2 separate regions of the Homo sapiens genome follow, and region 1 is linked to region 2. The links come from fine-mapping of genetic effects on plasma protein levels. A gene starts in region 2. The other region holds a variant in brackets. All regions are shown on one strand. Distances are between the middles of the regions.

Region 1 (11,491 bases), 18 kb before region 2:
CAGAACAATGTGACTATATTTAATGCCACAAAACTGTACACTTCAAATGATTAATTAGCTAATTTTTGGTTTTTTTTTTTTTGAGATGAAGTCTCGCTGTGTCACCCAGGCTGGAGTGTAGTGACGTGATCTCGACTCACTGCAAGCTCCACCTCCTGGGTTCATGCCATTCTCCTGCCTCGGCCTCCCTAATACCTGGGACTACAGGCACCTGCCACAACGCCCAGCTAATTTTTTGTATTTTTAGTAGAGACGGAGTTTCACCGTGTTAGCCAGGATGGTCTCGACCTCCTGACCTCGTGATCCACCTGCCTCGGCCTCCCAAAGTGCTGGGATTACAGGCGTGAGCCACTGTGCCCTTCCTAATTAGCTAAATTTTATGTTATGTATATTTTGCTGCAATTAAAATTTTTCAAGTGAGGTATCTATAAGGAAAGGTGAGAAAATATGTAAGATACAAAGATAATAAAATCCAGAGCAAGAACAGTATATAAGTCCTGTTTCCTTATGTTGAAATATATCAAAATATTCAACAGAAGACCCCAGGATAGGAAAGATGTGAAATTCTAGACTGGATCATCAGGTCCGACGGATTTACAAAGAAGGTGGCCGAGGATCTCTCTCCCCAGCCTTCACCCCCTCACTGACTGTGGGAAAATAAAGGGCTTGGGGTTTGGGGAGGAGGTGTTGCAGGAGGAGCGGCAGCTCCAGCTATGAGACCTCACCCAGAGGGGGCCAATACTGCCCCTCCAGATGCCAGGCAGGGGACATGGAAGGGTTTGGGGATTCGTTGTGGGCTGGGGTGGGGGTAGCTTGCAGGGGTCTGCTTGGGTCTTGTTCCCTAGGGCCTCCTGGAGGGTGGAGTGGTCTTAGCAGCAAGAAGCTGGAGTTGGATGTTGGATTCCTGAGGGCCGAGGAAGGACTTGCAAGGGACCTCCAGAAGGAGAAGTGCATCCCCCCCAGGGTCAAGAGTGAGGGAGCCCTGCAGCAATGGCCATCTGTGGGACATCTGTGACACTGTCAGCTGGAAGCCAGCAGGATGGCGGCAGCTCAAGTGAGACCCTTCCCCTCCCCTTACTATCTCCACAGCCCCCACTTGTGGGGGAGGGGAGGAGGTCCAGAGAAGGAGCCCCCCAAACTGCCTCCCCAGGACAGGCCCCAGCTGGGCAAGGGGAGAAGGTTTAAACCTAGATCCAATTGGGAGTTTGGATTAATAGCTTGACTGGACATTTTAAATTTGAGTTGAGACCATGTTTGTGACTTAAAGTGATGGTAGAACTGTCTTATGTAAGAATTGGGGCCAGGCACACTTTGGGAGTCCGAGACAGGTGGATCACTTGAGGTCAGGAGTTCGAGACCAGCCTGGCCAACATGGCAAAACCTGCCTCTACTAAAAATACAAAAATTATCCAGGCATGGTGGTGTGTGCCTGTAGTCCCAGCTACTTGGGAGGCTGGGGCAGAAGAATCGCTTGAACCTGGGAGGCAGAGGTTGCAACGAGCAGAGGTTGCCCCACTGTACTCCAGCCTGGATGACAAAGTGAGTGAGACTTCGTCTCAAAAAAAAGAGTTGGTCCCATTCTCCAGTGGGCTAGCCTTGGCTTGTCTCATGGTGGAGGAGGCTGGCGGGGGTGGGTCAGGTTCAGGGGGGTGGGGGAAGGTGGGGAGCAGAGGGTGGGAGAGAGAGAGAGAGAGAGACTGCAAGGACTGCATTCTTTTTGAGGCTCAGGCTCAGAACTAGCACAAGGTCACTTCCACCACATTCAATGGACCAAAGAGAGTCCCAAAGCCAACCCACATTGGAGAGAACGAAGGCAAAGTCACATTGCAAAGGGGTGTGGAAACAGATAGTGGTGCAGAATCTGGCCCGCTTTCATAATCAGTCCACTGGAAGACTTTGTTTTCCTCGCAAGGAAGGTTGGAAATGTAGACTCACTGCTTGTCCAGGCAGAAGAGGAAATGAGTTCAGGGAAGAGCTTGCCAGTCCCCAGCCTTTGCCCAGCCCCCTACTCATGCACATTTAGGCACACACCTACTGTGTGCTCAGCCCAGCAGGGTAGATTAGAGAGAGCGAGGGCGTCGGGATAGAGGGCCTGATTCCCCAACCGGGTGACTATCACTTCCGGTCTCATGACCTCCATGTTCTCATCTGTAAAATGGGGATAAACATCCTCATCATCTCTCCTGCCATTGGTATGGTGGTGACAAAAAACACTTTATCGATTCATGAAAGTCATCAGACAAAGTGGATGATGCTGTCCCTGCCCTCAAAGGTGTTAAATAAAGAAGATGAGAATTCAATACATGTCCCCAGCTCTGGTGAGACTGTAGGGGTTGTGTTAACAAGGGAGGGAGAGACATCAGAGAGCTGTTGGCAGGGGAGAGCCCTGTGGCCAAGCCTTGACAGATGGTGAACAGAATCTGGAAAGACAGAGGGCATGGGGCATGGCAGGGTGTGGAAACAGCACACTTGCAAAAGTGTGGAGGCTGGACACATGTGATATAAGGCAGGGTCCCCTACCCCATGATTCAAAGCAGAAATTCGCAAAGACTTTGATGTAGGCTGGGCTGGGAGTTGACTACACTTGCATGCCTGTTGCTTGGCAGGATGGCTTTCAAAAAAGAAAAAAATATAATAATGAAAGATTGAAAACAGATTATTGGGGAGAAAAGTATCCCAGGCGCTAGACGGCTGTCTCTGCAGCCTCTGGCTCCTGTCCCACCCATTCCCCGGCCCTGACGCAAGGCTGGCTGGAAGAAGGTGTTCTCGAGATTGTTCAGGCTGAGGGCCTGACTGGCAGGAGACTGAAGCCTACCCCATTCCTGCCTGGGTGCCAAGCTCTGCATGAGGTTTAAATATACCCACAGCCTGACACTATGCCCTAGATCATGCTAAATGTTTCCATACTCCTTGAATTCTCTTCTCAAGGTTCATTTATTGTCCCCATTTTTCAGATCAGTAAACTGAGGCCCAGAGAGGTTAACTGGTTTGCCCACAGTCACACAGCCAGACAAGTTTGAGTATGTCTGATTCTATTGCCTTATTCCAGGTTTGGGATACAGGCAGAGTAGGGAGAGGTTTAGGATGGTAAAGAAGAATGTTCCAGGAGGAACAGAGTTAGTGTAAGGGCAGTCTAATCTAGAGTCAGAATTTGGAGCTGTTTGTTACAGCAGCATGACCTAGCCTATCCTGACTGATACAAATCATGGTAAACTAATTTATATGTCCTGAAAAATATTAGAACTTAGCATCTACCTCTTAGGAGAGCTTTTTTTTTTTTTTTTAACTTTTACATTTTGGCAAAACACACCGAACATAAAATTTACCATCTAAGCAATTTTAAATGTACAATGCATGGCTTTAAGTACATTCACATTATTGAGTTTCTATCACCATCCTTCCACAGAACTCGTCATCTTGCAAAACTGAAATTCTAAACCCATTAAGGAAACTTCTCATTTCCCCCTCCCCAGCCCCTGGCAATTCCACTTTCTGTCTCTATGAATTGGACTACTTTTGACAGATACCTCCTATAAATGGAATCACACAGTATGCATCTTTCTGTGACTGATTTATTTCACTTAGCATAATGTCCTCAAGCTTCATCCCTGTTGTAGCATGTATCAGAATTGCCTTCCTTTTTTAAGGCTGAAAATCTTCCATTGTGTGGATACACTATATTTTGCTTATCCACTAATCTATCAATGGACACTTGAGTGCCTTTCACCTTTTGGCTATTGTGAATAATCTGCTATGAACATGGACACACGAATATCAGAGGCAGCCTTTTCAAGCAAAGGGTTTTTGGGGAAAAAGCCACTGTCCAGGACTCTAGGCTTGGCCACTAACTTGCTGTGTAGCTGTGGGCACATTGCTTCCTGCATCGTGTATGGCAATTCTAACTCTCTCCACCTTCACTGCCTACTCACAGCCGTGTGCTGGGGACCAGATTAGACCATGGACTATGAAACTCTCAGCAAAGAAAAAGCCACGAGGGGCTGTTATTGTTATTACTCAGTGGGGTCAGGGCAGTGGCTTCCCAAAGGCATGAGTCACTCATGGTGGAATTCCAGACATCAGGAGGGCCGTTCTGGGCAGCAGAGCCCAGATTCCAGACAGAGCAGTGACCCTGACCCGGAGCCCCTAGGGGAGCCACACCCTTTCTCTTTGGCCACTGGCTGCTGTGAGGAAGGAGTCAGTGAATGTCATAATCATATGGGCACTTAGGGTGAGAGCCTCCAGTCCCACTGCCTCACGTAACTATTTAAGGAGGCTCAGAAAGGGTCATGCACTTGCCCAGAGTCACACAGCTAGACAGTGGTGGAAGCTGGCCTGGGTCAGATTTGGACATCTACAGAAGCCCTTCTCCTCCCTGCTCGCACCCCTCTTAGCCCCAGCATGTGAGGAAGGCAGCTGTCTCCCTGAGCTCCGTCCTTCTATGCCTTGGGTTTAGCCATGTTGACTGCTGTAACAAATAACTCCAAAACCTCAGTGGCTTTGCATTATAAATGCTTGGTTCTTTCTCACATCAAACTGCAATAAGTCTTGACAGGAGGGCTCTGTTTTCTGCAGGTCATATAGGGATTGAGACTTTTCCTATTTGTGGCTTTCCTCATTCTCAGAGTCCTCTCCATTCAGCAGGCAGATGGCAGAAAGATTGTGGGTAGAAGATTTTTATAAGCCAGACCTGAAATCAGTACAATTATTTTTGCTTACATCCCATTGGCCAGAGCTCAGTCACATGACCACATCTAACTGCAAAGAAGGCTGGGAAATGTATCCCACATGTGTGCCCAGGAAGAAGAAGATGGCTATTGGTGAGCCTTGGTAGTCTTCCACAAGAACATGACCCAGTTCTGGCCAATAAAACATAAAGAAAGTATGCTGGGACAGGAGGTTTGAGAAGGGCTGGCCTCAATTATTATATAAAAAGGGGTGTGGGGAAGGTCCCCTATTCTTTCCCTTTAAGTGGTTGCATGAGGATGCGATGTCTGGAACTTTGGCAGCCATGTTGAGAGCATGACGGGCCAAGCCTCAGGGCTACAGCCAATATACTGAGGGTGCTGAAGCCAAAATGCGGGTCCTAGATGACATCACTGAACCTCTGAATGAACCAAAACTGGAGCCACGTAACCTCCAGATTTCTTGACTGCGAAGGCACCTATTATTGAATTCA[G/A]GAGTAATAGGGTATTCTATTACTTGCAGCCTAAAACATCCTAGCTGATTGACACTCAGGTGCAAATGCTGAAAACAGCTAAGAGGACAAGGTTAAGCCATGCCAGCTGTTACAACGAATAACTCCAAAACCTCAGTGGCTTTGCACTACAAATACTTGGTTCCCTTGAAACCCCTCCTCTGCTTGAAGTTAGGTAGAGCCAAGTAACATAGCTTTGGCCTACTCTGGATGTTGTGCTTTTTTGGGGAAGTTGGGGACAGAGCAGCAGTTCAAGCACAAAATGACCTGGCTGCTTTGTGCCAGGTCCTTTATACACACAGTGTATACACGGGAGCAAAATGCCTGGACTCAAATCTTGAGTCTGCCACCTCACCAGCCATGTGACCTTGGGCAAAGTCAATCAACCTCACTGAGCCCTAGTTTCCCCATTGAAAACATTGGGGTGATTATAAATATTCTACCCACAGAGTAAAGGATTAAATGTCCAATTCAGATAAAGAACTTGGCACATTATCTGTAAATAAACACTTAAAAGATTCTGACCAGAGCCTGGTGGGATGTGAGTAATATCAACCCCACCTTAGAGATGGGGAGTCTAGGGTTCAAGGAAATGAAGTCCAAGGACATATAAATAATAAGAGACAGAGCCTGGATTTTAATACAGACCTAATTGAACACCTGCTATGTGCCAGGCATTGTGTGAGGTGTTTAGATATATTATCCCATTGAACATACTAGCAATCCTGCATGGGAGGTATTATTATTATCATTATTGTTATTCCTATTGGACAAATGAGAAAGCCAAAACTCAGAGAAGTGAAAAGACTTGCCTACAGGCCAGGTCAAGATGCAGTACTTGAACCTAGGCTGAGTCCAAGCCTTTATTCTTTCCACCATGTATAAGCCTCCCTAACAGAAGCCCACCAGACTATTATAGTGGAATTGTAGGCATCAGAGGAGTAATACATTTGGCTCCCATGGCTATTCAGGGTTCCCTGAAGTCATCCCCAAAAGCTGGCTGCCAGTCCAGCCTGTCACCAAGGTTGTCCTGGTGATGGCTTTACCCTCACTCCTCCAGTAGAATAACTGGGCCCTGGAGTGGATGGTCCTGAGGGAGGAAGTTTGGCTCACTTGATAAAGCAGAACTTTCAAACACTTTGAGCTCATCCATGATGGAATAGGCTGCCTTGGGATGCGATGAGTTCTGTGGTCCTGGGAGGATACAAGCAGAGAAAGTCTGGTGGCCACCTGCAAGGAAGATTATTAAGACAGTTACTGCATAGAAAGTGAAATTAGATTCAAAGACCTTTCAGGTTTGAAATCTGTGGTTGCAAGATTCTCAGGTCCCATTTTCTCAGATTCCAGTCTAAGATTACATGATACTCAAAATCCAGGAATCTAAGGCTGCACGAGTTTTCTCCTTGGATTTTTTGTTCCCTATTTAGGCAGTTAGACTGCAGAACATCTACTGACTCAGGAAACAGATGTGTTAGTAAAAGCAGAGAATACATTTCTGGGTTTCAAAAACACCCCTTCCTCCCAGGAAAGAACATTCCTAAGAGACTTGGGCATCTTGAACACCTAATGAATCTGAAAGAGGCTCTCACTTTCTGTGACTGTCTTTAGGGACTGTCCACAAATACTCTGTTTCTTTTCCTTTTAGGGTGCCTTAGTCTGTTCAGGCTGCTACAGCAAAACATCTTAGACTGGGTAATTTATAAACAACAGAAATTCATTGCTCACAGTTCTGGAGGTTGGGAAATTCAAGATCAAGGCTCCAGCAGACTCAGTGTCTGGTGGGAGCCTGTTTCTTATAGATGGTGACTTCTGTGTGTCCTCACATGGCAGAAGGGACAGATGGGCTCCCTCAAGCCTCTTTTACAAGAACACTAATCCCATTCATGGGTGGAGCCCTCCTGACCTAATCAACTTCCAAAGGCCCCACCTCTTAAGGCTATCACTGTGGGGATTAGGTCTCAACATCTGAACTTTGGGGAACACATTCAGACCACAGCACAGGCCCATAGTAGGATTTCCACTTGAACTCCCTCCTCTGCTTGAAGTTAGGTACAGCCAAGTAACAAGCTTTGGCCAATGAAATGTGTGCAGAAGTGAAGTGTGCCACTTCCTGGGGGAGACTTTAGGAGCCAGTCTGTGGCTTGATGCTTTCTCTTGCCCTCTGCTGTGCAACAGTTGAAATGGTGGTTGTTCTATCAGCTGGGATCCAGGAGCAAGGAGACACAGAGCAGCGCAGCAGCTGCCCAGCAGGGGACGTGCATCAGGAGCCACTGAGAAACAGGACTTGAGCGTTGCTGTTACTGTAGCAGAACTCACCCTACCCTGACTGATGCACAGCTCTCCCCTCCCCTCCCTCCTTCCTCCCATCTAAGAAGGCTGGGAAGGAGGTCAGAGAAAAAGCTATGAGTGAGCATATTTTGGATTTTGTTGGTCAGTGGGCCCCAGAGAGCTTTGAAGAATTCAGAAGCAGAGAGCAGGGAGGATCTCAAGAGATAAAATGGCCAAGAGGGCCAGAGACAACCTCACGCCTAGATACAATTGGGGAAAAAAAATGAATGGAGCTGGGAAAGTGATGGGGTTGGGGAAAAAAATCCCAATTGAATAAGATGAATTTTCTGCCCACATATGGAATGGAGCATTGAAATGAGAATGAATTTAAAATAGATTACATTTCCAGCCCATCTGAATTTCAGACTGAGAATATCTGCTGCACATAATTCAAGATCCCACAGTCTCAAGAGGCTTGGGTCCTGGGCTTTGACAATGACTCTTTTCCTGGGCAGAAGGTTGTACATGGACACTGGGAGCACCTAGGCCTGGAAGCTGGGAGAACTAGGCTCTCCTGTCTGATGTCACTTTCCCTGTCACTTTCCCAGGGAGGCCTTCCCTGACTGCCTGACTTAAAAGGAACTTCCTCTACCACCCTGGCCATTCTCTATTCCTCTTCTTAACATCAATTGACACACCACAAGTTTTCATTTTTTTTTTTTTTTTTTCTTGAGATGGAGTCTCACTCTGTCACCCAGGCTGCACCCAGGCTGGAGTGCAGTGGCACGATCTCAGCTCACTGCAACCTCCACCTCCCAGGTTAAAGCGATTCTCCTGCCTCAGCCTCCCGAATAGCTGGGACTACAGGCACGTGCCACCACGTCCAGCTATACTGATGTGTTTATTGTCTATTTCCCCACTTGACTGTAAGTTTCAAAATGGCAGATATTCCTCTCTCTCTCTCTCCCTCTTTTTTCTTTTCCCTTTTATTTATAAAAAACTTCAAACATACAGAAAACCTATCATGAAGACCCATTTACCGCTTACCCATCATCTAGATTTCCAACTGTTAACATTTTACTGTATTTGCATCATGTTTTTTGGTGCTGGCATTTTCTGAAGTATATAATATTCTTCACTATATTTCCTTTTAAAAAATTGAAGATGGCCGGGCGCGGTGTCTCACGCCTATAATCCCAGCACTTTGGGAGGCGGAGGTGGGCGGATCACGAGATCAGGAGATCAAGACCATTCTGGCTAACATGGTGAAACCCTGTCTCTACTAAAAATACAAAAAATTAGCCGGGCGTGGTGGCGGGTGCCTGTAGTCCCAGCTACTTGGGAGGCTGAGGCAGGAGAATGGCATGAACCCGGGAGGTAGAGCCTGCGGTGAGCCGAGATGGTGCCACTGCATTCCAGCCTGGGCGACAGAGCGAGACTCCATCTCAAAAAAAAAAAAAAAAAATGAAGGTAAGGAGTTTTGTCTGTTGTATTCACTGCCATATTACTCACTGCCTGGAAGTTGGTAGGCCTTCAGCAAATAGTTGCTGAGTGAGTAGAAGGCGTTAAATCCTCATGACAACCCTGTGCGGTAGGTGTTATTATCCCCCATTTTACAGAAGAGGAAACTAAGGCACAGAGAGGAAAAGTAACTTCCCCAAGGCCACATGGTTGGCAGGTGATGAAAGGGGGATTTGAGCTCAGGCAGGCTGAGTTCAGAGCCCATGCATTTAGCGCACAATTGCTCTCTGCGGGCAATGGCCATTCATCTCCAACTGGGATGTTTATTCATCCTCTTTAGATACCATCTACAGAGGAGACCCAGAGGAAGAAGAGGGGCTCACAGGCTGGCCAAAAGCAGGTGATCTTCCTCTGGGGACCTGATGCTCTCACAAAGCCTGGGGCCTTCTGTCCTGCCCTGGGGTGGAGACAGAAGACTCCTTCCCAGACGAGTGACCTTTAGGGTTTGTTATGAATAGAGATTCCTTCTGGGGAACGTGATGGCTGATGCTGGGAACCCGGGTCCCCAGATTTAACCCCTAGGAATGTGGAGAGGAATCTCCAGACCTCCACCCAGGAGGCCAGCTCTCCCAGCCACCCAGGCCAGCCAGAAGAGGGTGGTTCTAAGCAGCTCTTCCAGTTATTGGACCACTGGGAGGTGGACTGGAACCTTCCATGTCCAGGCTGGGAGGCAGCTCCTCAGAGTAAAAATAACTCTAGGCTTCAAAATCCTGGGGTCTGCCTCTTCCTCCCCAGCTATGTGACATTCACTGGACAGGTGCCTCATGTGGGGGGACTTTGGTTTTCACATCAATCTAATGGGACTAAATATTATACCAACCTCTCAGCAGGGCTGGGACTAGGGTGAAGCCAGCCAGGTGCTCAAGGCATAACATTTAGGGAGGTGCTTGTTCTGAGGCGCCAACCCTGCACTTGCTCAGGCCCCGGGGTGAGGGCCTCGGTAGATTTGCACCCTGGTCACCTTGCTGCCTCAACCTGGCCCCAGCCCTGCCTCCCAGGGTTGTCGTGGGAAGGAAATGAGATATTGTATACAAAGCATGTTAGCACAGCATGTAGCATGCCCTTAGTGCTCACTTGTGGGGAAAATTCTGTTATTGTTCTTTTTTTTTTTTTTTTTTTTTTTTTTTTTGAGAGAGAGTCTCGCTGTGTCACCCAGGCTGGAGTGCAGTAGCACGATCTTGGCTCACTGCAACTTCTGCCTTCCGGATTCAAGTGATTCCCCTGCCTCAGCCTCCTGAGTAGCTGGATTGCAGGTGTGCACCATCATGCCTGGCTAATTTTTTTTTTTTTTTTGAGACGGAGTCTCGCTCTGTCGCCCAGGCTGGACTGCAGTGGTGTGATCTCGGCTCACTGCAAACTCCGCCTCCCGGGTTCACGCCATTCTCCTGCCTCAGCCTCCTGAGTAGCTGGGACTACAGGTGCCCACCACCACGCCTGGCTAATTTTTTTGTATTTTTAGTAGAGACAGGGTTTCACCGTGTTAGCCAGGATGGTCTCGATCTCCTGACCCCGTGATCCGCCCGCCTCGGCCTCCTAAAGTGCTGGGATTACAGGCGTGAGCCACCGCACCTGGCCAATTTTTGTATTTTTAGTAGAGACGGGGTTTCGCCATGTTGGCCAGGCTGATCTAGAACTCCTAATTTCAAGTAATCCACCTGCCTAGGCCTCCCAAAGTGCTGGGCTAGGATTACAGGCGTGAACCACCGCACCCAGCCTGTTCCTATTATTTTTATTGACTGCCTTTCTGAGGTTGGCTGGGCCTGTTTCCCAGCAGTGGCCCTGCCTTGGACCTCTTGCCATGGCCTTCGTCTCTCCCTCCACTTGTACATATTATACCCTTTTTATTATTTATCCCCTTGTAGCATGGTTTGATTCCCATTATTTACTGGTTCCTTGTCCCATGTCTCCTCCTCTGTGTCGACAGCCTGGAAACAATGATTGCTAATATTTACCAAGTGCTCACCATGTGCCAAGCCCTGGGCTAAGCATTTACATGCTGGATTTCATCTCATCTTTACAATGATCCTATGAGGTAGGGACTATGATTATACCCATTTTTCAAATGAGGAAATGGAGGCACTTAAAAATTGAGTAACTTGCCCAAGGATGCATTGTTAGAAAAGGATGGAGCTGAGGGTAGAATCAAGATGGCTTAATCCCTAAAACCCAAGGGATGGAACCCAGAACACTGCCTCTTCCACTCTTCACCAGCTTCTGCCCTGCAGGGTACACGCAGATGGCTCCAAGCAGGGGCCCCATTGCTCACTGGGGGAAACTGGCCTCCCTGAGCTAAGTCAGGTCCTGGGCAGAGGGACAGATGCTCTCTGTGCATCTCTAGGCCACAGCAGGGCGTTTCCAAGTCCTTCCCAGACCAGACGGCGGCTTCTGCTGTAGGCTATAGTAATAACAACAGCGTTGAGCACTCACACTGTACCAGAGCAGGGGTGGCGCCGCGCTGCACACCTGCCGCCCAGGGTCTCCACAGTCCTCACGCTGCCCTTGCATTGA
Region 2 (11,000 bases):
GGAAAATGGAGAAATTAATAGAAAGGTATAAAATGTCAAAAGATGGGCCCAAGAAGAAATAGAGAATTTCAGTAGGTCAATCAGTATTACAGAAACTGTAATGGTGTCAAAGCCCTCCCACTCCCCTAAAAATCAGCCTAGATGTTCTCATGGGTAAGTACTGCTGAACCTTTTTTTTTTTTTTTTTTTTTTTGAGACAAGGTCTCATTCTGTCGCCCAGGCTAGGGTGTAGTGGCCCAATCCTGGCTCACTGCAACCTCTGCTTCCCAAGGCTCAGGTATCCTCCTGCCTCAGCCCCTCACGTAGCTGGAACTACAGGCATGCACCACCACACCCAGCTAATTTTTGTATTTTTAGTAGAGATGGGGTTTTGCTATGTTGCCCAGGCTGGTCTTAAACTCCTGGACTCAAACGATCCACCTATCTAGGCCTCCCAAAGTGCTGGGATTACAGGTGTGAGCCACCGCGCCCAGCCTGCAGAAACTTTTTAGAAACAATTAATTCGTATCATATGCAAGTTGCTTAAAAAGAAAACAAAAGAAAAAAAAACCAACCTATCTTATTTTAAAAGTGTTGTCTTGATTATAAAAGCCAGATAAGACAATACCACAAAGGAAAGTATAGGTCCATTTCACTTATGAATATGGATAGGAAAACACTAAACAAAATCTTTCCTGACTGAGTCTAGCAGAGTTAAAATAATGATACTACATCACCATCAGGAAGGGTTTATCCCAGAAAAGTATCCACATCTGAAAATCCACCAGTGTAACTCACTACATCATTCAATCAAAAGGAAAAATCCAACGATGTCAGCTGATGCAGAAAAAGGTTTTGATAAGGTCTTTATGTATTTATGATTTTTAAAAATTCTTAGCAAACTAGGAGCATGAGAGAAGTTCCTTAATTTAGTAGGGATTTTTAATACCAAAAACCTACAGAAAATATTGCTAGTGGAGAAAAGTTTTATATAATACATGCCTTTTAAGGTGAGGAACAAGGCAAGAATGCTAGTTATTACTGCTACTGTTTAATACATAGAGCTGGAGAGCTGGGCTGAGCTACAAGGAAAGAAAATAAGAGGTGTAATTATTGGAAGGGAAGAGATAAAACTGTCATTGTTTGTAGATGGTGTGATCATCTACCTTGAAAAACCAACCAAATAAACTGACAAAATATTAGAACAAATAAGAGAGTTCAGCAAGGTTGCCAGATACACAGTCAGCAACAAAAATCAATGACGCTTTTACATCAGCAATAACTAACCAGAAAAACACAACATAATTTTGACTTAAATAGAAAGGTTTTAAAATAATATATACATATAAATATATTATATATAAAATGCATATACATATATATATACACACATGCACACATTTTAAAAGCACAGCTGGCTATGGTGGCTCACGCCTGTAATCCCAGCACTTTGGGAGGCCGAGGTGGGAGGACTGCTTAAGCTCAGGAGTTCAAGACCAGCCTGGGCAACATATTGCCAAAATTTTTTAAAAAAACATTTAGCCGGGCATGGTGGCACACACCTGTAGTCCCAGCTACTAAGGGGGCTAAGGTGGGAGAACTGCTTGATTCCAGGAGGTGGAGGCTGCAGTGAGCCGTAATTGCGCCACTGCACTCGAGCCTAGGCAACAGAGCGAGATTCTGTCTCAAAATAAATAAATAAATAAAGGTATATATATACATAAGTATAAAAATAGCGTATATATATAAAACATTATATCTCTCTCTACACACCACACACACACACACACACACACACACACACACATTATTATGTTTCTAATCACATGAATGAAATCTACATGTAGGGTGCATTTGGCAGCTCTGGGTGTCATCAGGGATCTGAGTTCCTTTATTTCTCCTTCGCCCTCTTCTGCACACGAAGTCCATCCTCAGGGTACCCTCATGGTCCAAGATGGCTGCAGAACTCCACCATCACGTCCGTATTACTGACTGGAAGCAGGAGGCAGCAATCAGTGGTGGTGGAGTCACCAAAGGGAAGCCCTTCCTTTTAAGGAGCCTTTCCAGAATCGGCACACAACACTCCTGCTTGTATCTCCGTGCTGGAACCTATCCCGTGGCCCCGCCTCCTGCAAAGCTGAGTGCGTCGCCACCCCAAACAAAAAAATCAGTGTTTGGTGACTGAGGGAGGAGGGAAGAAGGATATTGGAATGGGCATTGATCAGGCTCTGTCACAGATCTCAGTCTCCAAAACACGAAACTGGGGCACTGAGGTCCAGAGAAGTGAGGGAATTTACACACAGCCACAAAGCAAATTAGCAGCGGAGTTGGGATTTTCACCTGACTGTTGACCTTCCCATGGTACAGGTGTCCCCTCACACCCTGGTACATCCAGCCACTACAGCACTGCCCCTCCTCACTTCCAGCCCTGCTGGGGTCAGGATCTGTTTTGTATTTCTCTGTCCCCACTACCTAATGTCACACCTGTGAGCTCCACCTCCCCAGCGTCGGCTTGGGACTTGGCATGGGGTAGAGGCCGTAAGCGGGAAAGCGGGCACACACCTCGGGAGCTGACAAACTGCAAAGGGCTTTCAACCGCAGATATTTACTTGTGGCTTCCATATGCTGTACCTTGATGGTGATGTTTCGTAAGTTTCACTTTTCAGATGCATTTTTTTTTTTTTTTTTTTTTTGAGATGGAGTCTCACTCTGTGGCCCAGGCTGGAGTACAGTGGCGCGATCTGGGCTCACCGCATCCTCCGCCTCCCGGTTTCAAGCAATTCTCCTGCCTCAGCCTCCTGAGTAGCTGAGATTACAGATACGGGCCACCACGCCCAGCTAATTTTTGTATTTTTAGTAGAGACAAGGTTTTGCCATGTTGTCCAGGCTGGTCACGAACTCCTGACCTCAAGTGATCTGCCTGCCTCGGCCTCCCAAAGTGCTGGGATGACAGGCGTGAGCCACCGCGCACGGCCAGATGCATTTCTTAGACGCTAAAAATGTTCAGCCTGGCCCAGGCCTGGAAGAACATGCAGGCCGCTTTTATTTTTATTTTTTTTTAACAGATGGAGAAACTGAGACCCAGAGAAGCAAAAGTGTGTGTCCCAGATGCCAAGGTACCTGCGGCAAAGAATATTACCTAGATGTCCCTCACTCTGGTTCTCCTTCATTGATACACATGGAATGATGGTATTTCCCCGCCTTCCTTGCAGTTAAGTTGGGGCCATGTGGCTAGCTCTGACTAATAAGATGTGAGTAGAAGTGATGATGTGGCTTCTCCATCCCTCTTTTTTCCTGCCAAGGTGACCTTGGAGGCCACCGGTCTAGAACAGGGATTCACAAACTGTAATGTGCATGCAAATCACCTGGGGGTCTTACTAAAATGCAGATCCTGATAGTGGGGTCTGGGAGTCTGCATTTCCAACATGCAACCAGCTGATGCTGATGCCATCGGTCCTTGGACCACACACTTGAGTAGGGAGGAGCTACAGGATGTGCCTGGCCCACTTTGGACCATTCACGAGCAAGAAATTAGCTTCACTGGGTTAAGCCACTGAGATGTGGGCATTAGTTTGTGATCTCAGCACAGTCTTACGGAAATTGTCATTTAGCCATCAACCAACATTGACTGAGTTCCTACCATGAACTCCTGTGTGACCTGGGTGCCTCATTCTGAATGAGGTGCTCACTCTTGGGGTTGTGCAAGTGCAAGGTCAGCAGCTGAGAATGAGAGCCTCCCTAAATGTTATACCCGACATGCCTCTGTCACCTCACCCTGGTCCCAGCCCTGTAAGTCGGTAGCGGGAGCCGGGATTTGAAGCTCGGACCTGTTGACTTCTGAGCTTGTGCTTCCTCCTGGGAAAGCAAAGGACAGCCACACTCACCCTGGGCCCTTGTGTGGGGGCTGCGGCTGCAGCCAAAAGACTCATGGGTTCCCTGGATGCTTATATCCCTCTGGTGCCAAAATTGGACAGTTTGAAGGGAGGGCTGAACCGCAGCAAACCAATCAGCAAAGTGGCAGCTCCCACCGCTCCTGCCACACCCACTCATGCTGAACTGTGTGTGCAAGCTCCATCCCTCACACTTCATCACCAAACACCCTTGATGATGACGCCTGCTTCCTGATCTGGCCAGGCCCCAGGGCCCCTACTGCCCACACTTTCCCATCCTCAGTTATCAGACAGAAAAAGTTCCAAGAAAAATCCATGCTCTGACTCAGAGGGCCCTAGGTGGGCATAGCACTCTGCCTCGTTCTTGCCACCTCCCTGCCCCGTATGGCCCTGTCTTCTTCACCATACGTGGCACCCATGGCCCACCTCACCTCCTCATTGTCAAGGTCTCCTTGCTCTGCTATGGACATGGCTGGGACCAGCGTGTCTCCCTCCAACTCTCTTCCTCACACCTCCTCATTTCTCCCGTCTTCCTTCTTGCCTCAGAGATAGAAGTGGCTTAAAACTGTTCCTTTCAGGAACAACTAATCAGTGGCCACAGAGGTCAGAATAGCGGGTACCTGGAGGACAGAGGGTAGAGTCTTGGAAGGGGCATAAGGAAACTTCTGGAAGTGTAGCTTGACCTGGGTGATTATCACATGGGTATATACAGTCATGTATATACATATGTCAAGAGTCAAAATTAGCCAAACATGCTGCCTCATGCCACCAGCTACTCAGAAGGTTGAAGAGGGAGGATCCCTTGAACCCAGGAGGCTGAGGCTGCAGTGAGCCATGTTCATGCCATTGCACTCTAGCCTGGGAGACAGAGTGAGACTCTGTCTCAAAAAAAAGAAAGAAAGAAAGGAAAGAAAGAAAGAAAGAAAGAAAGAAAGAAAGAAAGAAAGAAAGAAAGAAAGAAAGAAAGAAAGAAAGAGTTGTCAAGCTCTACACTTCATATTAGTGCACTTTAAGCACTTTTCTGTATATACATTACCTCTCAACTTAAAAAACATTATCACAGAGAGCTCTATGGACAGTAGCAGAAATAAACAGCATCAAAAACTGAAACTTGGGTGTTGGAGTCATATGAACCCGCACTGAAAACCTGGCTCTGTTTTCTAGCTGTGTAGCTTTAGGCAAGTTACTTAACCTTTCTGAACCTCACTTTTTTCAATTGAGATGTGGATCATGAGGATTAGAAATGCTGCTTTTTATAAACAGTGCTTAGCACAAGGGCTGGATCTTGCTGGGTGCTATACACAATTGCTTTTATTTTTATTAATATCAGTGGCCTAGGGAGGACAGGAAAGTCGGAGTGACCTTTCCTGGATGCAGGCAATAACGGGTGGGGGGCCTACAGAATTTAAAGATAAAATAAAACTGATGAGAAGTCAGTCTGCTTTTATGATCACTGTGCAATGGCAGATCTAAATAATTTCAGTGGTAAAATACTTTGTCCTGAAAATACCCTTTATTGATCTAAGTTCTAACAATTGGTGCAGTAACTGTTGGGGTTTAATAATGTATATGTAAAGCTTCAAATCAGCACATTTTTATTCTTATCCTTTAATAAACATATTCTACATGGAAGTCAACTTGACTTGGAGAACTTTAAGAATCCTATAGTTGCCCCCAGAGCATGTGGTCTCAGGAACACACATCAGTTGAGAGTAAGCTCCTCACAACTCTGGAATCTTCCAAGCTTGCTTTGAATGCATTCCTGTCTCCACCGTCCAGCATTCATATTTCTGCATTTATTTTTATTATTATTTTGTGTGTGTGACAGAGTCTCTCTCTGTCGCCCAGGCTGGAGTGCAGCGGCAAGATGTCGGTTCACTGCCACCTCCACCTCCCGGGTTCAAGCAATTCTCCTGCCTCAGCCTCCTGAGTACTTGGGACTATAGGTGTGCACCCACCACGTCCGGCTAATTTTTGTATTTTTTTTTTTAGTAGGGACGGGTTTCACCATGTTGGCCAGGCTGGCCTTGAACTCCTGATCTCAGGTGGTTCTCCCACTTTGGCCTCCCAAATTACAGACGTGAGCCACCGGCCCAGCTGTATTTCTGTGTTTAAACAGTAGAGTGAAATCAACTATGAACGCAGAATGATGGGAAAGATGACGATAAGGGTATTTCAATTTTGTCATTTTACGAAACTACTTGGAGTTTTGATTTGTATTTACAGTTTTTAAAAGAGTAAAACAGTGTGAACTGTGAATGGTAATGATTTTGTTTGGTAAGTGCAAATTTTAATTCATACATGAAAAATATTTGTTTTGTTTCATGATTATTACTGAAAATAATTTTGTACTATGAAGGAAGAGGGGTGTTAAAAATGATCCACTGTGGATGTAAATTATTCTAGGCATGCTTCTGACTAAAACATTAGCATTTCCACAAGAATCCCAAAAAATAAAACAAAATTTAAAAGATCCCTTCTGTTTCTTTTCCTCCAAGTTTCCAGACCCCCATCTCCACCCTGGCCACCTCTTCCTGCCATAAATAATCAAATCCCACACTTTCATCTTCACCTTCCGTTTCCATTGCCTCTTCCGATGGGACAGCACCCGTGGGGAATCTCCTCCATGCTCACAATCCCCGTCTTGCCACTATATCAAGTCACACTTCTTCCTCACCAATCGCCCATTCTGGAACCTCTGCTATCCAGCTAGATCACTTTGAGGTTTGGACAACTACTGGTGGAGGTAATGGGGGCCCCAGACAGCCCTTGACATCACCTCTTTTATCTTTGCCAAATTCTACAAACAAAGCCCATGTCTTTCTGTCCCCCGCCCCCATGGCTGGCACATAGTAGATGTCCCCAAATCTTGGTGATGTGAACTTGTGTGTCTCACCCTTCACAGACATCACCATTTCCCGTTGCACAGAAGGCTCCACTCATACCAGGCGCTTTGGCTCCCAGAATAAGCAGGCTATCATGCTATGTCCGACATCTAGGCGTTGGTACGTACTGTTCCCTTGGCCTGGAACATTCTGCCCTCTCTCACCCTCTCTTTTCTTGGCTTTCTGAAATGGCACCTCCATCAGAAAGTGTCCCTCACTCTTGGTCTGAGCAAGGGACCTTGCCTGGTATTCCTGAACTTCCACCTGTTTTCCCTCTGTTTTCTCCCTCTCTGGGCCTTGTCCTCAGGTCAGTGTTGTGCCTCCAGCTCCTGCAGAGGCGAACTCAGAGGCGGCCGAATGAAACCAAATGGATTTGGCTTGACCCCATCATCTAGCGGTGCCCAGCAAGCGCTGGCACATAGTAGGTCCAGCCTGCCCGGACTCGCCCACCACGGGCCCCCTTCCAGAGCCGGGAGGCAGGCCAAGGGAGGCCCCTTATTGCCAAGAGCAAACAGGCCGCCCAGGGAAGTTTTGCTCTGGGTCACACCCACCTCTGGGTGGCTGCCAATCTGCCTGCCAGAAACCGCAGGCTGGGCCGCGGCTACCCAGAGTCAGGGCCACGGAGCTTAGGAGACCTTGGGTCAGCTCTGCAAAGGGGTTGTTTACTGAATGCTTCTGGTATCTGCAGCCCCGCTGGGGTTCGGACAGGGGGTCTGGAATAGGGCTTCACAACTACAGCAGGGCTAGGACCCTCTTGGGCTGGAAGGAGCTGGAGAGGCCTCTGCAAGCTGTCACAGGCTCTTGGTGCTGGCACTGGCTCAGGCTTTCACACACACACACGCGCACACACACACACACACACACACGGACAGGCACCCCCTTGGTGGCCTTCACAGTTTCACCTTCAGGTAAATGGGCTCATCCTTTGAGCCATGAGGATGGGAAGCGAAGCAAGGAATGAAAAAGCTAGTGTGTTTGTGTGTGTGTGTGTGTGTGTGTGTGTGTGTGAGCGCGCGCGCGCGCGCGCGTGTGTACTCGTGCGTGTGCCTGTGTGTGCCTGGGAGTGACCTCACAGCTGCCGGAACATAAAGACTCACAGGTCCGCCTCCCAGGCTCAAAGCTGGCTCTGCAGGGGACATGAGAGGCACACCGAAGACCCACCTCCTGGCCTTCTCCCTCCTCTGCCTCCTCTCAAAGGTAAGGAGGCCCGGGCCCTGGAATGCACTGCTGACTATTTGGGTGTGGAGGGGGTGGGGATGTAAAATCGCAGCCAAGGACCCCCTTGGCAGAATTCCTCCAGGGCCCCACATTGGGCACAGTCTGGCCCCCATGCCTAAGCAGGGCTTCTCTCCCTGGAACTCAGAGCTGCCTCCGGCCAGCCCTGCTGTGTGACCTCAGATATGTGTCTTGCCTTCTCTGGGCCTCAGCATCTTCCCAGGTGAAGGGTATACAGTTTGTGAGGCCTCTGTGAAGACCATTCATGATCATTCATCAAACTTACCAGGCAAATTGAAGAGGACTTTAATGTATCCTCATTATGAATGGGGGCACTCAAGACATGACATGCTTGGCCTAACTCTGAGCCAGCATTTGGATGGATGCCTAGCTGATTGGAAGGTTCATTCTGCAAGGGCATCAATGCTGTTGGACTCTTAGGCAGTGAGTGACCCGCCCGCCCTAGCTAGAGGGGAACAGGAGACACCTCTGTGGAGTAATGGCCTTATCCCTGAATGCTGCATGGGACATTCACCAAAGAGCCTGTGGGACATCTACCTTGTCTAACATGCACAACAATCCCATAAGGAATTTTCAGTTAAGTGAGGCTCAGAAAGGGTAAGCAACTTGCAACCCCAGTTTTCAGTCAAGTGAGGCTCAGAAAGGGTAAGCAACTTGCCCAAAGCCACACAGCAAAGAAAGGTCAGAGCAATAGAGGAGAGCCATGGTGGAGCCCAGAATGACATGGATGTAGGGGGAGAAGCACTCCAGTCTGTGCCTCCCCAAGCCCAAACTGGACCAAGGCCACAGCTGCTAAGCCTTGTCATCCCCTCGGCAAATGCTGAGTTCCCAGAGCCATGGAATCGGCCCCACCACAAGCCACGATCTCACTGTATTTTCACGCTCCTTTGAGGAGCACGGGCAGGAGCTTCTCTCCCTCAGGCTCCAAGTCTTCGTGCCTGGGAAGCCTGAGAACCACGCTGGCATCCTGTCCTGCTGTTTGTTCTTCCAAAGGGGATGGGTAGGGCATGATGCCAGTGTGGGTGGCTTGGGTAGTTGGAATAGGGGACTTGGGGCTCTAGGAGGGAGAAGGGGCCCAGGATTATACGAGAACAAAGTAAAGCTGTCCTAGACTTGCCATTAGGGTGAGACTTACGGGACCATTCTTCCCTGGTCCCAGGAAGCAGGGACTGCACAGAAACACAGGGACTTAGTCACCACAACATGGAAAGCCACAGCAACCCTCAGAGGGAGAACTGTAAGTCTTCCAGGCTGGCCGTTGGCTCCGGGGCTCCTGGCTGTGGACCGGGGCAGGAGGCAGACACCTGGACACAAGCAAAATCACATTGATCAAGGACTGGCCAGAACCTCATTTAATCTCCATCATCACTCAGAAACAGGTTGTCTCTACTCCAGTTTACAGAGGAGAAAACTGAGCTTCACCTCCACCTTCCAAAGCCGTTTGTCCACATGTTCAGTCACGTAGCAAGTCACTGGCAGAACTTGAATCTCAACTCTTGCCCAAAAAACTCCATGCCCAGTACTCCTGCCCCAGATATCATGAGCCTTGCCCCCCACCACCAGATATCACAGCAAGGCCCTGGGGAAACTGAGGCACAATGGGACAACTTGAGTTTGGGCCTTGGATGTCAACTTGAACTTGGATGTCAATCCTGATTCTGTCTCTTACTGGCTGTGTTACTACACGGTTTGAGCTCCAGTTTTCTCATCTTTAAAATGGGCATAATGATGGCACCTCACATTGGAGGGGTAAATGAGACAACAGCACTTGGCACATGACATACATATGGTATCACATGAGATAATTGTACACTAGAATAGTTGATATCATTAATAGCCTCTCCTGGGTATCGGGGCCTACAGAGTCCTGCCCCCTGACAAGCATGGCCAGTAGAGGGGTCCACAGTGGGAGCCAAGGTGCACAGCTGCTGGTCTATTTCCTGGCACTCCTGTTTTCAGGTGGGAGGGACCTGAGAGTCATTTCTGACAGTCCTCCCTCCATTGCCCACAAGCCAAGGGAGCTGAACCTCTGACTTAGAAGGGAACCCAAAAGCCTAGACCGTTTCTATGTGAATCACCTGTGGATTTATGAAAATGCAGATTCGGGCTGGGCGTGGTGGCTCATGCCTGTAATCCCAGCACTTTGGGAGGCCGAGGTGGGTGGATCATGAGGTCAGGAGTTTGAGACCAGCCTGGCCAGCATGGTGAAACCCCGTCTCTACTAAAAATACAAAAAATTAGCTGGGCATGGTGGCATGCACCTGTAATCCTAGCTACTTGGGAGGCTGAGGCCTCCCAAGAATTGCTTGAACCTGGGAGGCGAAGGTTGCAGTGAGTCGAGATCGTGCCACTGCACTCCAGCCTAGGTGACAGAGCAAGACTCCATCTCAAAAAAGAAAAAAAAAAAAAAGAAAGAAAAAGAAAAGAAAATGCAGATTCGGATTTATTATATAAAAATTCAGCTTCGGATTTATAGAGGGGCTCCAGATGCTGCCTCTCTGACAAGCTCCTAGATGACGCTGCTGCTGCTAGTTCAGACCACACCTTGAGGGGCGAGGCTAGGCCATCGTCTCTAGAATCTGAACAGCCTGCAGCGATGGGATCCACTCCCTTGTGAGGCAGCCAGACACCTAGCTCCGTGTGTCCATCTGCTACTCAGTGCTGTCTCAGTGGGGGCTGTGATCGCCTCCTACTTTGTGGCCCCCACCAGAGGCTGGTCAGCCAGTTTGCAATGGCTCCTAGTGGCCGGCGTGGGAGTTGCCGGGAACTGAAAGCAGGTTTGCAGGATTGTGGGTAGTGGGGGCACTGGGCGGGGCAGAGGGTGAGGCAGAGCAAAGGGGTCATTGCCTGCTTTGGGGCTGCACAGGAGATATGAGGTCATTAATTCCATCATTATAAACTGCAAGCCTCCATTCCTCTAGATGAAACCCTCATCCCCTAAGGATCCTACTAAACTCAAACTTGGCCCCCCAAAGATGGGGCCACTGGAAGCATCTTGAATTATACTTCC

Which allele goes with the higher level. Positions count from the first base shown, and alleles are read on the strand shown. Strength reflects both the effect of a copy and how common the allele is.
In carriers of allele G in region 1, the plasma level of the protein whose gene starts at base 7,870 in region 2 tends to be higher than with A alone (moderate association).

The links. A credible set is the group of variants that fine-mapping cannot tell apart. PIP is the chance, under the fine-mapping model, that this variant and not a neighbour inherited with it causes the effect. The UK Biobank Pharma Proteomics Project read protein levels with antibody pairs (Olink). The fine-mapping took linkage between variants from a reference panel, not from the people measured, so its PIPs are less certain.
Region 1: its variant is the best candidate, but not a certain one, in a credible set for the plasma level of the CCN5 protein (UK Biobank, PIP 0.88).

Annotation. Positions count from the first base shown.
Region 1 is chr20:44,689,084-44,700,574 of GRCh38, forward strand. No RefSeq gene overlaps it. Among named protein-coding and RNA genes, the nearest start is that of CCN5, 21 kb to the right of the region's middle. RefSeq lists a silencer at 7,387-7,436 and an enhancer at 8,127-8,176. The variant G/A (reference allele first, on the strand shown) is at 5,177.
Region 2 is chr20:44,707,500-44,718,499 of GRCh38, forward strand. CCN5 (cellular communication network factor 5) reads left to right here and starts at 7,870. Exons shown (of 4, transcript NM_003881.4): 1 at 7,870-7,951. The coding sequence starts at 7,892. KCNK15-AS1 (KCNK15 and WISP2 antisense RNA 1) reads right to left here. Exons shown (of 5, transcript NR_132377.1): 4 at 9,126-9,294; 5 at 4,363-4,489. It overlaps LOC124904911 (a long non-coding RNA gene), which reads right to left and starts at 7,275. Exons shown (of 2, transcript XR_007067598.1): 1 at 6,442-7,275; 2 at 904-1,971. RefSeq lists a silencer at 7,169-7,463.